Regions from separate parts of the Homo sapiens genome. Here region 1 is linked to region 2. A link means that fine-mapping ties the variant in region 2 to the expression of a gene that starts in the linked region. Tissue or cell type: whole blood. Region 2 holds a variant in brackets; the other region holds the start of a gene. All regions are shown on one strand. Distances are from middle to middle.

What was found. PIP is the estimated chance that this variant, and not a neighbour inherited with it, causes the effect.
Region 1: it holds the start of KCNAB2, and the variant in region 2 is fine-mapped to the expression of KCNAB2 in whole blood (TOPMed, PIP 0.98).

What each region holds. Positions count from the first base shown.
Region 1 is chr1:6,040,777-6,048,947 of GRCh38, forward strand. It overlaps KCNAB2 (potassium voltage-gated channel subfamily A regulatory beta subunit 2), which reads left to right and starts at 5,112. Exons shown (of 16, transcript NM_001199862.2): 1 at 5,112-5,407.
Region 2 is chr1:6,092,099-6,100,269 of GRCh38, forward strand. KCNAB2 (potassium voltage-gated channel subfamily A regulatory beta subunit 2) reads left to right here. Exons shown (of 16, transcript NM_001199862.2): 11 at 2,302-2,387; 12 at 3,225-3,345; 13 at 3,432-3,526; 14 at 4,538-4,658; 15 at 5,171-5,259; 16 at 6,387-8,171. The coding sequence ends at 6,476. Among named protein-coding and RNA genes, the nearest start is that of KCNAB2, 50 kb to the left of the region's middle. The variant G/A (reference allele first, on the strand shown) is at 4,757.

The DNA.
Region 1 (8,171 bases), 51 kb before region 2:
CGGGGTTTTGAGGTGCACGCTGGTGAGCGTTTTCTCCAAGAAAGGAGCAGGGGCTTTAAAAACCCAAGTGGGAAAGAAAAACCAAAACTTTTCCAGGGCGTTTGAGCCAGAGTAGACTCCTTTCTTGTCCCTGACCCTTCCGAAATATCTCGTTTGAGGTTAACAGAGCGGCCGGACAGTGAGTGCACGGCCAACCCCGGCATCCTGTTCCTCCCACTTTATACATCGCAGCCCCTGTGGCCCTGCCAGTTTCTCCTGAGCGAGGATGACGACCTTGCAGGCCTTTGGGGAACCACGTCTGCCGGTTTCCCAACACTGGAGGGAGTGGGGGCGGCCAAATGCTCCTGGGGCATCCTGACCCCCTCCTTGTGGAACTCACTTCCGCTTGCAGCCCTGGGTGTTTCTGTCTGCACCATAAACAGCGCTGAACATCAGCGACAGCTGCGGAGGGCGTTCAGTGAGAGCTGAGCCTCTGGGGACAGAGCATAGAACCCACGAAAGACGCAGGCACAGGCAGTACCCCAGCAGCCCATCAGTCTTGGGAAGCCAGACCTTTCCGGATAATCACTGGGGCCTGAGCCAGAGCCCGTGTCTGTGACAGCCACAGGGAAAGGCAGTGTCTGTCCTAAGAAGAGCCAGGCGGGCAGGTGCGGGTTTGCCAGCACGCGGGTGCTCTGCACGTCTGGGTTGGAGGGTTTTCAGCCATTGCCCACAAGCATATTGCAAAGCAAGTCCTGAAGCACATTCAATCCAAACCAACCCTCACTCGGAGGTTCACCACGGAAAACAGGGCCTGGCATGGAAGGAGCCCTTGGTGTCCAGGAAACTGGCTCCGGGTCTCTGCCCCGTGGCCACCGGGTGGCGCTGCTGCAGAGCACTTGGCACCGGCTGCGCTTCCTCAGAGACTGCCCTGAGCAGGCGACTGGTGGGGGCCCGGGGGCATGGGACATTGGTGGTTCTTTCTGACCTGCACCTGCTGGGGTTGATGCCAACTGTGGACTCTCTCTCTTCTCTCCCTTTCTCCTTTTTCTCTTTTCTCCATTGCTGTCCGAAGTACTCGGTATGGGAGTCCCAAAAGACAGCTCCAGTTTTACAGGTAATGAGTCTTCATTCTCCCTAAAACCCAGCGAGCCGAAGGCCAGGGAGCGGGTGGGAGGACTGCACCCTTGCCGAGCAGGGTGTGCTGGTGTATTCTCTGAAGCCAAAGCCCCCGAGACCCCCAGGCTCTGCTCATCACCCTCTGTGCCTACCCACAGGATGCTGTGCAATGTCCTGATGGAAAATGTGAAGTCAGGTTAATTGTATGTGTTGGTCTGCCAGAAGTTTGCTTTGATTTGAGCAAATGGGCTTTTGATGACTGCCAAGCTCTCAGCCAAATCTACCGTTAAAGCTTCACTCATCAGGCAGTGAGGGAGATGTCTTCCTGTGGTCACCAGCTTGCCCTGCTTCCATTATCAGAGTACAGGACGTGGCGAGCCCATCCGTTCCCCCTTTGCCTGTGGGTTTGACCTGATCTGGAACTCACAGAGCTCCTCAGGCTCATTGAAGGTTAATGCCTGCTTGGGGGTGTGCAGTACTGATACGACGTGGATCAGTGACATCTTTCTGATATGTTTTTCTGTTGGTGAATTAACAAACCGGGCACCTGGCGAGAGACTGTGCCCCAGCAGGATGTGACATCAAGATGCCAGGCTTAGGGCCCTGCAGGGTGCTCTTGGGGAGACCCGTTCCTCTCTCTGGGCTGCCTCTCCCTCACCTGTAAGGCAGGGGATGCATGTTCTTGGTGCAGCCTCCAACCCTAGGAAGTAAAATGTCAGGGCTGCCTGGAGCCCATGGGCAGCAGCCTCCCCATGCCTTGGGACTGTTTGGGGAATTGGCACGGCTTCTGGCAGCAGGTCCCTGGTATGCATTGCTGCATCTTGGCGGTCAGGCCGGGAGGTCTCTCTATTCGGACCCGGACATCTGGTAACAGTGCTTTGGGGATCGTTGCCAATGTGCCAGGCAGTGGTCATGGAGGTGGCAATGTATTTCCATGTAGCTTTTCTCTCCCCGCGCCCCCACTCCCCACCCCCCCCCCCGTTTGCCAGCCATAGCACCTCTGATGGGGACCGTGGACCTAGATGCTCAGAGTGATCTGTGCCACGCCTTCAGTGCCTCCTCGGAGGTCCTGCTCCTTACAGGGAGCTCTGAAGACATGGCCAACTCTTAGATCCTACTGAAATTTTGGTAGATAAGATTTTGCTTAAGATAGTTAAATCTGAACTCCGGCTTGCAAATGCTTTCCCTGGATGAAATGTTTGTATTGTGATGTATGTACACATGGTATAACAGATCCTAACAAACATATGCCGCTCATCCCAGGGGATTTCATCAGTGAAACAAAACATGTACCTGAACTGCATCCTCAGAGAGCCGGGAGCAGCCTCAGTCCTCAGAAGGGAAGGGGTGAGGTCTGATGAGCAGGCAGGAAAATCCCAGGTGCAGACCTGCCAGCTCAAAAGGGCTGCCCACAGGTACAGACCATCCAGCTCCAAGGGCCTGCCCCTAGGAGGGGCCAAGTAAATTATCCAGTGACCAAGTGAGAGCCTTCCAGCCCACTCAAGGCCCTCAAAACCCCACAGGCTCAACATGTTGTCCCCCCCGCCGGGATCCCTGTGCTTAAGAACCTTCATTTCCAGGTGGCCTTCCTGGCCCCAAGGGAAGCTCTGAAGCTTACCCTCTAGGCTCTCAGCCCCAATTCTGGTGCCCACAGGCTCTGGCCATCCTACCCGTTGGATCTCCAGGGGGTCACTTGGGTGTCTCTTGTGGGGGCTCTGGAGATGACCTCTAAGGGCTAGGGTCTTTGTTTGTTAACAGGCTGGGGGCCACTCCTAGTAGGGCACCCTCATCACACCAAGCATACCACTAAACATGGCTATTGGATGGTTCTTTCAGTTACTTAGGCCTGGCCCTCTCACAGGGCAGAGGCGTTCAAGGCATGTGCCCTGCCCCCATGCAGCTCCCAGGCAAGGAATTGGCATAGGACACTGTGCCAATCAGCTGTCCACCAAGTGCTGCATAACAAACAACTCCAAAACTCAGTGCCACGCAGCAATCAGCATCTCTTCCTTGCTCCCGTGTCTGCGGGTTGACCAGGCAGCTCGTCTAAGCTGGCTTGGCTGGGTTTGTCTCCAAGCTGCAAGTTGGATCCCCATGTCCTCCATCTTCCCATGCTTAACTGGGGCCTACCCCAGGCATGTCCTTCCCATGGCAAAAGTACCAGAGGAAAAGCAGAAACATGCAGGGTCTCTTACGGCCTATGGTTGGGGTCAGAGCGCTGTCACCTCTGCTCACGTGCTTTTGGCCAAAGTAAGTCTCAGGAACCAGCCCACAGTCAAGGGGCTGGAAATATATTGCCCCCACCAGTGGGAGGAGCTATAAAGTCACATGGCAAAGGGCATGGGTACAGAGAGGGGTGAAGGATTGGGAGCAATACTTCCATGTACCCCAGGTCTCAAATAGCCCTGATGATCTCCAGAAGGCAGAGCACGTCACAGGAGAAGCCCAAAGAGCATTTGGGGTCCAAGGAAGGAGGGGCCACAGCCAGCTGAGAGCCAAGAAGACTTCACGGAGAAGGCAGCAGGGGCTTGGATCTGGTCCTTGAAGGCTGGGCAGGATTCAACGCAGAGGCTGGGAAGCATATTCCAGTAGATACAACAGCCTGAGCCACAGCTCAGAGGTGTGCACAGAGAACAGGAAGTGACAGTTACCCAGCCTGGGCCATCAGGGACATGATGGAGAATAAAGAGAGGCTGGCTGTAGAGGTGGATGTTGGTGGGGGGCCTCGAATGCCTAGCGATGGGGCACAGATGCACTCAGAGGGCACTGGGGAGCCATCTATGGTGTTTGAGCAGGGCAGGGGTCAGAGATCTGCTCTAGGAAGGAAGCCTGGTAGCAGGGAGTAAGACAGGGAAGAGAGAGGCTAATGCAAGGAGACCAGACAGTGCCCAGGAAAGGTGCAGGACGGCTGAGCTCCAGGAACTGCACAGAGAGAGAATGAAGGGGTGCAGGGCCTGAAAAAAGGACGTCAGAAGCCACGTCCACAGGGCTTGGCCACTGATGGGCAGGTGCTGAGACAGAAAGGGACAGAGAGGAGCAGTGGACCCAGGGAAGGAGAGGGCCTCATTCGGAGCATGTTAGGCTGCAGCTACCACCCAGTAGTGAGGCGCAGGCCCCCCGACCAGGGCGACATGTGGGGATCTGACAGAGTGGGCTTGGGCCTTTGGGGACAAACCATTTCAATTGCCAAGGCCTTCGCAGCTAGTCACCCGCAGCCAGGCACCTCCAGACTCTACGTGCTCTCCCAGCCTCCCACTTCATTTACCTTCCACACTGCGACTGGGGCACTGATTTCCTGTCCCCCACCTTCCCCCATGGCAGCTACCACTGTTTGCTCATTCATCATGGGGGGACGGTTCTGCCTCCATTCAAAATCCCACATTCACTGGCGCGCTTTCTCAGCCGGAAGATGATGTCACGCTGGGACTTTGCTGGCATCCTGTGACACGCAGTGACCCTGGGGGTCATGACCCTGGGGTTGGGGCTCAGCACTTAGCCTCATCCCAGAGCTCAGCCTTGTTTGGCCTAGTCTCAAAGCATTTCCCAAACCCCAGGTCAGGACATGTGCCGTGGAGAAGGGCTCCTGTGTCCCTGCCTGGAGTGAGTGGCAGTGTGGAGTCCAAATAGCAGGTTCTGGGGCCTTCCTGCCATTTATAGCTACCGGTAGTATCAGATATACCCATCTCGGGTGTATCCCCAGAGGACAGGAGGAGCATGCGCGTGTGCTGAGCAGAGGCCTCTCCAGACCCCCTTGGCTGTGGGTGGTGGCCCCATACGACGGGGCCCCCAGCTCCCCTGCTGCAGACACAGTTCAGAGTTGAGTGGTATGCGGAAGCCACAGGCTCTGTGTCCCGCACTCAGATACCAAAGAGCAAGGCCTGCCCCTTTCGACCTGTGGGTCCAAAGGTTTGTGTTTCTGGCACGCGGGGATGGTGGAGGCAGCAAGGGTAGGCCTGAGGGACGGGCAGGACCTCCCCCTCACCTTGGGCTGCACCCCAACCCCACGCACCGGGAGTCAGCCTTGCCAGGTTGCAGCACGGAACTGCACTTCCCGAGCTTTTAGGGGAAGAGGCACTCGTGAATAATTCAGCCTCTTTCACTGAGATGAAAACGCCCTAATAGAACTAATGGACTCGCTGCCTCAAAACTCGACTCTGGTGGGACTCATCTCATTCACCAATTGCTTCTGACGTCCTGCAGTGACACTCCCTAATGAAAAAGCCGCTGTGCCAGATCCTTAGAGTGTCTGGTGATCCCTAATAAACCAGACTGTGGCCTTTTTAACGAGCAGACGCCCCCACGAAGGCAGGTGAGTCCTCCCTTCAGCCGCTACCTTCCTAGTGGAGATGCCGCTTGGGGGCACGCATCCGCGGGAATGAAAAATAACAGAGGAGACCATATTTTGGGGTGGTTTTGTCTGATCCGGAATTAGACCCTCCGTGTTTTTGCAAAGCAGAAGACCTTAAAAAAGAGCCAGCCTGAGGTAAACTTGGAATGACCGTGATGGATGGGGTGGTGGGCGGCAGGTTTCAGCCGGGCAGCACCTCTCGCTTGAGTCTGCTCACAGCCCAGACCTGCCCAAGGCTGACTGTTTTCCCATCTGCCGGAGACACGGGCGTCTAGCTCGTACCTCGCTGTGTTCACCATTGATTAAGATTCAGCATTTTCCAGTTTTGCCCAGAGCGCTGTCAGGGAGGTTTGGTCTTGTCTGAAATGTCTGTGCAGGAAGCACGTGCTGAGGGAGCCAGGGGCTGCTTGTTTGGGCCTCAGTTTGCTGATTGTCCTTGAGCGAAAATCATTCTGTGTTTGCACTGAAGCAATGCCGTGTCTTGTAGAGCCGCACCCCGGAATGGTAGCAGCTCCCCTTCCATTTCCGCTTTGGAGAACTCTGGCTGGGCTCTCTGCTCTCTGGACAGGTGTCACCATTCAGAAGAGATGCTCAGGGTTCCTTCTCAATCTCAGGTTGTATGCTTTGTTGGCTTTCAGTAAACAGAACAATTCAGAAATTCCAGGTAGAGGAGTCTGGGGTGAGGTAGTGATTCCTACTGACTTAATGAGGTTAACATCTTCCTTGCATTTTTCCATGTCACGGTGTTAATTCACGTGAATTCCCCTGGGCCCCTGATCTACAGGAATAGATTTGCACCAGGCAGGCCCAGCCCAGGAAAGAACTTGTGGGTTCCACGTAATTAGCAATGGCTATTGAGGAGGGGCTCGTTTTTCTTGGTACCAGGGTGGTGAGGGAGTGTCAGGGCTCAGAGACCCTCACTCTGGAAAGCGGCCGGGATTTGGGATATTTTGAATTGGAAGTCAGGGGTCACTGTGCTCTTGAGCACAGGAGAAGTGGGGACCCTGAGGCAGGAGCCCGGCAGTGGGGCCACTCTCTCCTCCCTGCAGTGTCTTACCGGGGGGCCCTTCGTCCAAGGACCTGACGCTGCTAGAGTCTCGGCAAAAGCCCAGAATAGAGCCCCAGTGTGAGGGAGTCCAGAGGTGTCCTCTGTCCCCAGGCACCGCTGGTAACGGGCAGAGCCTCTTTGCCTTCTGCCTGTACCTATCCTTCTTCCCCTGGGGCAGCCCTCCCAGAGTCATGAGCCTTCAGGACCACAGGGAGCCCCCGCTGTACAGAGTCCTGGCATGGGAGTCCCCCCCACACAAGAGAGGGTGACCTGCAAAGAGCTGCTGGGTCTGAGGTAGGAAGCCAGCCCCGCCCCCACCAACAGCTGCCTGGCACTGCCAGGAAATGCCCAGGTATAGCCCTGGTTGGCCTTTTGGAGCCTGGGCCTTGGTTACTGTTCTACAAATATCTGAGCCCCTCCTCTGTGCACGGGACACTCCCGTGGGCACTGGTCAGGGGGCAGTGGCAGCAGGCAGAAGAGTCCTTGCCCTCCTGGACCCAACCTTCAGGGGAGTCCAGCGGCCATGGGCTCCTCATGGCACCAGCCCTGCTCCTCACCCCACCACCCCATGCCAAAGGCTGCCATTTCTGTGCCCGCAAGTTCCCTGGCCCAAGCCCTGCCCTGGCACCATGGGGACAAGCTCGTAGCAAGAGGCTCTGGGCTCCCTCCGTGCCGCAGGGCTCCCACCTGCAGGTCTGCTCCCAGGGCTGCAACATGAGCTCTAAGGAAAGATTGCAAGCGGGCCCCCACAGGGAGGGACGCCCTCTAAATCCTGGCCACAAAACCCATTCTGTCCTGCCCTCTCTCCCCTCTCCCACTCACATCCCCAAACTCAGCCTTCCACCATCTTGTTGTGAAGGGGGCGATTATTCACATCTGTGTTCTCTTCCCTTAAGCATTTTCTAGGGAGATTTGGTGTCTGTGTGGCTCACTCCTCTCACTCAAACCTGTGGTCACAAGTTCCTTCCCGCCCTGCCTGCTGGCCCCTGGTGGTGGATTTTTCTTTCCACAGCATTTATCATAATTGGTGTCTTATCCCACGCCCCCCAACAGACTGTCTTCTGGCTGCGTCACCAACTCCCACCCAGTTGTCCAAAGCCTCATCTCATGCAGCCCACAGCAGCCTGGTACAACAGGCCTCTGCCCAGCCTACCTCACAGATGTGGAGGCTGAGGCCGGGAGCGGTCAAGGTGCCTGCCTGGGCCACACCATGAGCAGGTGACAAGCAGAGCTGCCCCTGTCCAGAAGCTGGGCACTCAGCCACCCCGTCCTCCAGCCCCGGGGCCTTGGCTATATTTCTAGAGCCAAACCAGACCCGGATTGCTTTTTGTGAGTAATGTCTTGAAAGCTAATGGCTATTGATCTCAGCCTGGTCGGGCCAGGCAGGGAACTTGCGTGTCTGAGGCTGGTCCTGCCTTTCAGAAAGAGCCCTGGGGCTACAGCCTGCCCAGCTGGCCTTCTTTCTAAACACAGACCTCAGGGAAGTGAGGGTTGGCCCCCATTTGCCCCACACCGGACTGGCAGCTAGCCACATGGCCACCTCAGAAGCAGCTGCCTGCCACGCGCATGGAGGGAAGGGAGTGGCCGGCCAGTAGGCAGGGAAGGGAAGCTGGTGCTGCTGTCTGTGGGTGCCAAGGGCCTCATTTCCTAAGGTGAACCTCTCCTGGAGTCCGGGCC
Region 2 (8,171 bases):
GCAGGAGATGCTGTGAGTTTTGGCAGCAGCTAGAAGGATTCAGTCTTCCTACTTCCGTTCAACCCCATTAAATATTGAGGTGAAGGACAGTTGTCCCTAATTGTCCCTGGGTCTGGGGCCACTGATATCACACTTGGGCACAAGTGCAGGGTGCTCCCTCATGTGGGCTCCCTGTCCAGCCTGCTTCTGCCCAGATCCTCCAGGGAGCCCAGGGGCCTTTGCCTAGGACTCCCCACCTCAGGACAGCCAGAGGCTCCTGCCCCGTCAGCCCCGTCTCTCCATCACTGCATGGAAGGGGCGCCGCAGGGCAGCATGCGGTTTCACTGGCTGGGACCTTGGAGACCTGAGACAGCTGCCGGGGAGGGAGAGTGAGGGAACGGGGCTGGCCTTGGGGGCCTTGGCTTCCCTCTGTCTGGCATGTGGACCTAAGCCTTGGCTGAGAAGAATCGGGAACTGATGCTGCATGCTCACAGGTGCCCCGAGAGTGTTTCTAAAAAACCACAAGGCCGGGCAGGCCAGGAGCCCGGACCTGGGCAGGATGTAGTCAGAGATTCTCCTGGGACCCTCTAGGTTCTCCTCAAACTTTCCCAACCAGGCACTTCCTGAGGGTCTATCGGAGTTGGCAGTTAAAGCAGGTGGCCCAGGGAGGTGGCCCAGAGAGTTCAGACTCCCTCCCAGATCTCCACCCCCAGGAGGGGACAGAGAGGATTCCCAGGAGCTACAACCTCTGACCTTGGAAGTAAGCAGAGAGCAGGGCTGGGCCTGCAAGCGTGGAAGCCAAGGGTGGTTTGCCAGGGGTCCTGGGTGAGTCTGCCGAGACCACCACTCCAGAAACCCCAGTGGCCTCAGCTCTAGCCTTTAGGAGGCCCCAGGTTCTGCTCAGGGTGGACCTCAGTAAAGGGGCACTCAGGGAGCGACCCCCAAAACAGAAGTGGACGGGAAGCCAGCACTGCCACTTTGTGGCCTCGTTGCCATTCCAGGGGGGAGCCTGCAGAACAAACCCAGCATCTTCCATCCTTCCTTCCTTCCCATCAGCCCCACTCCCAGCATTTTCAGGACCTCAGCTTCCACGCAGCATGGGCAAAGGACAAGCAGGCACTGAGGGAGAGCCAGGGCTTTTCCAGGGTCAACGTTGTTGCTGTCTTTAGAAACACTTGCACTCCCACTCACTCCCACACTGCCTTTGGCGGTCGAACTTGCAAGCACTGTATCCGACCCGTGAGAAGCCTAGCGCCATAGTCCCTCGCCCTGCAAAGCTCAGAGGCTTCTGAAATTTGAAATTTCGACGCCAAGTTCTGTTTTTAAAATCACAATATCCCCATGAGGCTGAGAGGGAGCTATAACCAGCAGATTGCTGTGTCTCAAAGCCATGTTTGAATATTGGGAAGAATCCACTGTGTCGCTGGGGCGAGGGTCCCTCCTCTCTTCTTTAAAAGGCCAGCGTGAAGTCTCCGCGATTTCATCCTCAGGGCCTTAGGAGTCTCCGCCGTCCACGATTCAGGTTGTTCCCAGGGCTCATGGAGCCTCAAAACTGTCCTACTCCAGGCCCTGGCCCCTCACAGGAGGAGCACCCAGACCCCTGTGGCCCTGGGACCACCCCTTGCCAGGGGACAGGCGGGTTGGGACTCTGGCCTGGTGCTGGGCTGGTTTGAGAACCTGGGCCATGGTCTTACAAGGCTTTCCACGCCCACTTCTCAGTCTCCTGGACATGACAGGAAACATGAGCTCAGCCCCGAAGCCCTATTCTCCGGGACCATATGGCGCCCCAGGTCCTGCCACATCTCCTTATCCAGCCCACTCTCTGTTCCAATTAGACTTTGGAATAGCCCGAAGTAGGAGACCAGAAACGCAAAAACACATGTCCCTCCTGCCGCCAATCTGACTGTAACGTTCATGCATTCACCTGGTCCTTCCTGAGTGATCGGGGCCCTCGAATCTTCCCCAGACCAGAGAACCTCCAGTTCTAGAGTCCAGAGCCACATTCTTTGATTGTCCCCTCTAATCTACCATAGAAACATCACGGTCCATCCATAACCCATTTTTCAACATTTCCATAGGCCTGTAACCAGTCGGGGAAATTGTTTTCACGACCAACTTCTAGGATTGTGGTTCACTTTTCTCTTTCATCCCAAAAAACCCCTCCCACACCCAACTTCAGAGCCAGGAAGTACACTGCTTGCAAGACATCTTCGCAGCCCCTGTCCCTCCTCCCAGCGTCCTGCCTGTATTTGCAGAATGTCCCGAGGCTGGCCCTGAGCCCTGGCTGCCCCCCACCTGCGGTTTCCCTTTCTCTCACGACAGAGACCGTCCGCGCCATGACCCACGTCATCAACCAGGGGATGGCCATGTACTGGGGCACGTCACGCTGGAGCTCCATGGAGATCATGGTACGGTGGCCGCGCAGCATGTGTGTGTCCAGGCACAGACTCCCGGCACCGGCTGCGTATGGAGACCCCAAAGCTCTGGCGGGGTCTGTGCCTTTGGTCCCAACTGCACCGATGCCTGGGTGCTAAGGGAGGGACAGGATGGTGGAGTGTGGTGGTTATGTCTGTAGGCCTTGCAGACGGGGATTCTGCATGGATCCCAGCGCTGTGTGGCCCTGGACAAATGGCTTAACGTCTCTGAGCTTGTTTCCCCACCTGTAGAACACATCTGCTAGGTGAGCCCCCATGGGGCCATTCTAAGGAGTCCCTGAGAGAGCCAGTGTGAAGCTCTTAGCAGATGCCCTGGAGCTCAGCAAGCACTCTGGGGTGACAACACCGTCAGCTGTTTCCACTGGGCTCCTGAGACGTGCCCGGTGCTGTTAGGGTCAAGGGTTCCACAGGGACCCTCTCACATGCAATCCTCACCGGTGCCTTTACCAGGTGAGTGCCGCAGGCAGCCCATTTTTCAGATGTGGACACTGTGGCACAGAGAGGTTCAGTAACATGCCAAGGTCACACAGCTTGGGCCAAGATTAACATCCAGGCTGTGTGGTTCAGAGCCTGGGCTGCTCATAACTGGACCCTCCGGCCTGGGGGTCCCACCACCCACCTCCTTTTCCCAGCTCACCAGGGCCTGCCTGGCTCCCAGGGAAGCTATGAGTGTGAGCAGTGGGGAGCCCGGGCTGCAGCTGCTGGGCCAGCCTGCTCCGGGGACACCTTGGTGCCCTCTCCATGGCTGCCCCGGCAGCCTCCCGCCTGCTCACAGGCAAGGGCCCTCGGGGTCCCTTTCTGCCTTCACAGGAGGCCTACTCCGTGGCCCGGCAGTTCAACCTGACCCCGCCCATCTGCGAGCAGGCTGAGTACCACATGTTCCAGCGTGAGAAAGTGGAGGTGCAGCTGCCGGAGCTGTTCCACAAGATAGGTGGGCACCCTCGGGCCCCTCGCCCCGCCCCACCCCACCCCTGCTCTCGGGCCCAGGGCTTGACTCCACCTGCTTTTCCTCTTCAGGAGTGGGCGCCATGACCTGGTCCCCTCTGGCCTGTGGCATTGTTTCTGGCAAGTACGACAGTGGCATCCCACCCTACTCAAGAGCCTCCTTGAAGGTGAAGGAACAGCCTGGTGGGGAGGGACGGGCAGGGGATAGGCATTTTGGACGGGTGGGACCTTTGGGCCGACTGCTTTGGTGCTGGGCAGGGGTTCCGGGAGCTGCAGCTGTTCCCACCTCGGTCTGCTGGGGGCGGGCTCCTTGGCGTGAGAACATGGAGCCCCTCCTGGCCTGATCCCATGTGTAGAGGGGCTGCCCAGCCTGTGGCACAGGCCCAAGTGGAGAGGCCCTTTCACATCCCCCCCCCTGCCCCCACCACATCCCCCCATCTCTACCCCCTACCACATCCCCCACCTCTGCCCCCCACCACAGCCCAGCATTCAGAACTCTGAGACCCCTGGGCCTGGGCTCCGAGATGGGGGCTGCAAAGCCACATGGAGGTGACCCTGGGAGAGGCGCCCCTCCCCACCACACAACCTCTGAGTGGGGACTCAGGAGGGTCCCCAGACTGCAGGATCTGGAGAACAAGGAGCAGGCCAAGAAAGTCTGCCCAGCCAGCAGTCTCAGCACTGGGGCCCACAGCCCTGGGTTCCAGGGCAACGTGGCCTGGCCCCCGACTCCTCCCATCCCATGGCAAGGTCAGGGCCCCCCTCCAGGAGGCCCTGCAATCCTCTGGGGGGGATGGCCAGGGGAGAGAGCACTCCCCTAGGGCCAGGAGGTTCTTCTGGGCCACGGGTGGCAGCCGAGACCCCAGGCTGCCAAGTTTCCTAAGAGAAGGAAGGCCAGCACCTCGCCTCCTTGTCCTGACTTGGGGTTGGGCCAGCACCACAGTCTTTGCACTTCAGAGCCTGGACAGGCCCCGCTCATCCACCAGCCCGTGCCCGGCCCACTGCCCACTCTCCCCTACTTGAGAGGCCTGGGGCAGGGGCACTGCCCTGGCTTCAAGATGAGAAGAGCCCCTATGAGGGAGAAGGGTCCAGAAGGAATGAGCCCATCGGCCCCCTGCACGTGGGGGTCCAGGTGACCTGCTCTCATCTGTAGCTGTGCTGCTCCCCTCCCCCGCAACCAGGGCTACCAGTGGCTGAAGGACAAGATCCTCAGTGAGGAGGGCCGGCGCCAGCAAGCCAAGCTGAAGGAGCTGCAGGCCATCGCCGAGCGCCTGGGCTGCACCCTGCCCCAGCTGGCCATAGGTAACGGTGGGGTCGCCATGGGGCCAGTGCCCCTGGGGAGAACCTGCCCCAGCTGGCCGTAGGTAACAGGGTGGGGTTGCCATGGGGCCAGTGTCTCC[G/A]GGGAGAGAGGGAAGGGATCCCTGGACATCATCCCCCAGCCAGCCTCGGGTAATCGGGCTCTAAGGGGCATGGTTGGGACCCCATGCCTCTAGGGGGATGTCAGGAGTCCCTGAGGACCTGGGCCACCCCCTCCATCTGCCAGCCATAGGTAATGGGGCTCCCGCTTTCATGGGAAGAGGATGGGGAGCGCTAAGCACTTGGGCCACCTCTCCATCAGGGAGCAGCGGGCTCCCCCATGCCTCCTCCAGCCACCTCTTAGACAAAGCCCGTGCCCAGCACTGCAGGGCTTCCTAGACCCCCTCAGACCCCCAGACCAAGATGCTGGGTCTCTCGGCCCAGTCAGAGGCAAGGCAGACCCATCAGGGGCCCCTGTGGTGGGTGTTTCTCCCTCACCTTGGGTCTCGCCGCCACAGCCTGGTGCCTGAGGAATGAGGGAGTCAGCTCCGTGCTCCTGGGGGCCTCCAATGCGGACCAGCTCATGGAGAACATTGGGGCAATACAGGTAAGAGTGAGAGGCCCTGCTGGGCAGAGGGCCCATCCCAGCCCGAGCCCCGTCCAGTGCATCCTCCCAGGCTCGTCCTGCGTGCCAGGCTCTGTTCTAGGCACTCAGGATGCGCCCGTGAACCATCAGAGTTGTGCTCCTGGAGAGCTTGCTTTCCAGCAGGAACAGACATGAACACTAACTGCACGAAACAAGGAGGTTAGAATGTGTGTCAGGGTGGACGAGCGCTGTAGGAGAGAAGCCAGAGATAAAGGGAGGGAGCTGGGGCCAGGGACGGTGGCGCTGCAGACTCAGGTTCAAGGGGGCCTGTCAGGTGGGCTTGTTGAGAAGGTGGTGCTTGAGCAGTCTTGAGAGATGCGGAGTAAGTCACGCAAATGCCTGCGGGAAGAACCTTCCACCAGCAGGAAGAGTTGATGCAAAGGCCCAAAAAGGCCTGGAGCAGAGGGGCAGATCCTGAGAGGCACGAAACACCTCCAGGGACTTCTGAGTGAGACGGGAGCCGTGGCAAAATTGTGGGCAGAGGAGGGCGAGCTGCAGCTCAGCCTGGAAAGGGAGGCTGCTCTCCGGCTGCTCCATCGGGGAGGCTTTGGGAAGCAAAAGTCGAAGCAGAGAGCCCTGGTGGGAAGTGGCAGCTGCGGGTCCGAGACGGGAGTGGTGGTTGGATCCTGGATGTTTGGGAAGGTGGGGCCCCCGGGACTGGCTGACAAACTGGATGTGGGGGTGAGAAGGCGAGGTGGAAGTCGGTCCCCGGGTGTGTCACCCGGAAGGGTGGCGGTGCTGTATGCTGAGGCAGGCGCAGCTGGAAAAAGCAGTCACGGACATGGAAGTCCAGCATTTGGCCTGGAGTTTCCATTTTATGTCACTGCTGCCACCACCCTTCAGGAAGGTTCTAGGGCACCTTGACATTTGAGAGGGAGTGCACAGACCCAGGCATGCTTCCTCTCTGCCCCAAACCTTCTGAAACACAAAAGCAGCGTGGCCTCCATCTGCCTCAGATGGAGCCCAGATGTGATGGGGCAACCCGGGCCTGGCCAGCCGACCATCTGGAAGAGCCTGGCCCCACCTCCTCCCCAGGCCAGGCCCGTCTTGTTGGTGGGATTCTGATTTGTTGTTGTTCTTGCACGCAGGTCCTTCCGAAACTGTCATCTTCCATTATCCACGAGATTGATAGTATTTTGGGCAATAAACCCTACAGCAAAAAGGACTACAGATCCTAAGCCGCCCCCGCCCGCCTGCTCGGACAGTTTCCGTTCCCTCCTAGTCTCTGTTCGCTCGCTTAAGCTGTTTTGAAGCCAAGTGAAGAGTGTGGTTTGCATCCAAGAGAAAACACCACACTGTGATGTCATCGGGAAATGATCTCCCAAGTCGCTGCCAGACACCACCCACTGCTTCGCCGGACAATGTCGAAGTCCAGTCTGTGCCGGGGAAGGCACTGGTTAGGAAGGATGTTCAAACGGTCCCACCCAAGCCTGTCACCTCTGCTCATCCTCCAAGACCACCCAGCTTTCTCCCAGCCACAGCCAAGATTCCCAAAGTCAAGGCCCAAAGATTTCCAAGGTTCCCAAAGTCAAGGCCAGGCCAAGGCCTGGTTGGGTCCTTGGGGCGGGCAGGGCCAGCCTCTCCTCTGCTGAGAATCCCCACTTGGTGTAGGGGGAGAGGGGAAAGGGGTCTGGCCCATCGAGGGGCCCCTTCTGCCAGGGCCTTGGTTGCTGGGGCAGGGCCTCCCCACTGGGGGTCTTCCTCCACCTCCCACTTTCCAAGGGCTCCAGGAATCTGGGGCCTGACCACAGATTCCTCTCCCATCCTTTTCTGCTCCAACCTGCCCCACTGGGTCCCGGCAGGGGCCATGCCTACCAAGCTCGAGCTGGCCCTTGACCCCCACCCACCCCCACCCTTGCTGGCAGGGGCAGGGACCCCAGGGGGATTGACTCTGCAGTTTGGGAGCCACAAAAAGCGTAGCGGTGTGATTTCTAGCTCAGCCTCCCACCGTCTTCCTCCTACACACCAATGATGAGCCTCATGCCAGTGAGGCCCGGAGCGCTTGGGAGGGGTCCCAGTGGGGCAGGCCCCTCTGTCTGGCCACCCCTCTGTCCTGGCCCCGGAAGGCCCTGTGGTCATGTGCTCCTAGCTGCACGGTGGCTGCTGGCCACACCACGGCAAGTGGCAGCAGGGGCCGGCCCTGTGCACAAGGATGCACTCCTCTCGGCCCCTGTAGACTTTCTCTAAAGCCGCCCGCCAGCCCAGGCCGCTGCTCTGCACCGAGCTGGTGGGCTTGGGTTTTGTGGAGCGCATGCTTGGACCCTTTCAGTAAGGAAGGGTCTTTGGGGTTTTCTGTGCCCATGACTTGGGGGCTGCACCCCCACAGCACCCCCACAATGTAGGAAAAGACCTCAGGGAACCTCTCCCTGGAAAGACGGGCAGGGCTGGTTAGCCCCTCCCACTGCCTGACACCTGGGACAGGCTGGGCAGAGGGGAGAGAGGGCAGGACAGGCCAGAGTGACGCCCCCGTGCAGCTTGGGCCGGAGGGCAAGGGATGCCAGTAAGTCTGCAGGTGCGGGGTGCCACCTACAGGCCCAGGCCTGTGTCCCAAGCAGTACCCAGGCTTTGCAGACCACGCGGGGCAGGGCTCCACTGAAGCCACCCCCACCCCTCGCCAGCTAGCTCCATAGGGAAGCCTGTGTCTCCTGCCCCCAGGGCGCACCCTCAGTGCAGGCACCTCTGTTCCCGCTTTGCCCCTGGAGGAGCCACTATTCCAGAAGGCTCCACCCTGCCGTCCTGCGGGAGCCTGCTGTCCAGTCCTGGCCGGGCCAAGGCCTGGGAAACTGTGAAAGTCAGAAAGGCCAGCGGGGAGAGGCTGGGGCGAGGGGAGGAGGGGGATCAGCTTCTGCTATTACCGACCCCCCTTCATGCTG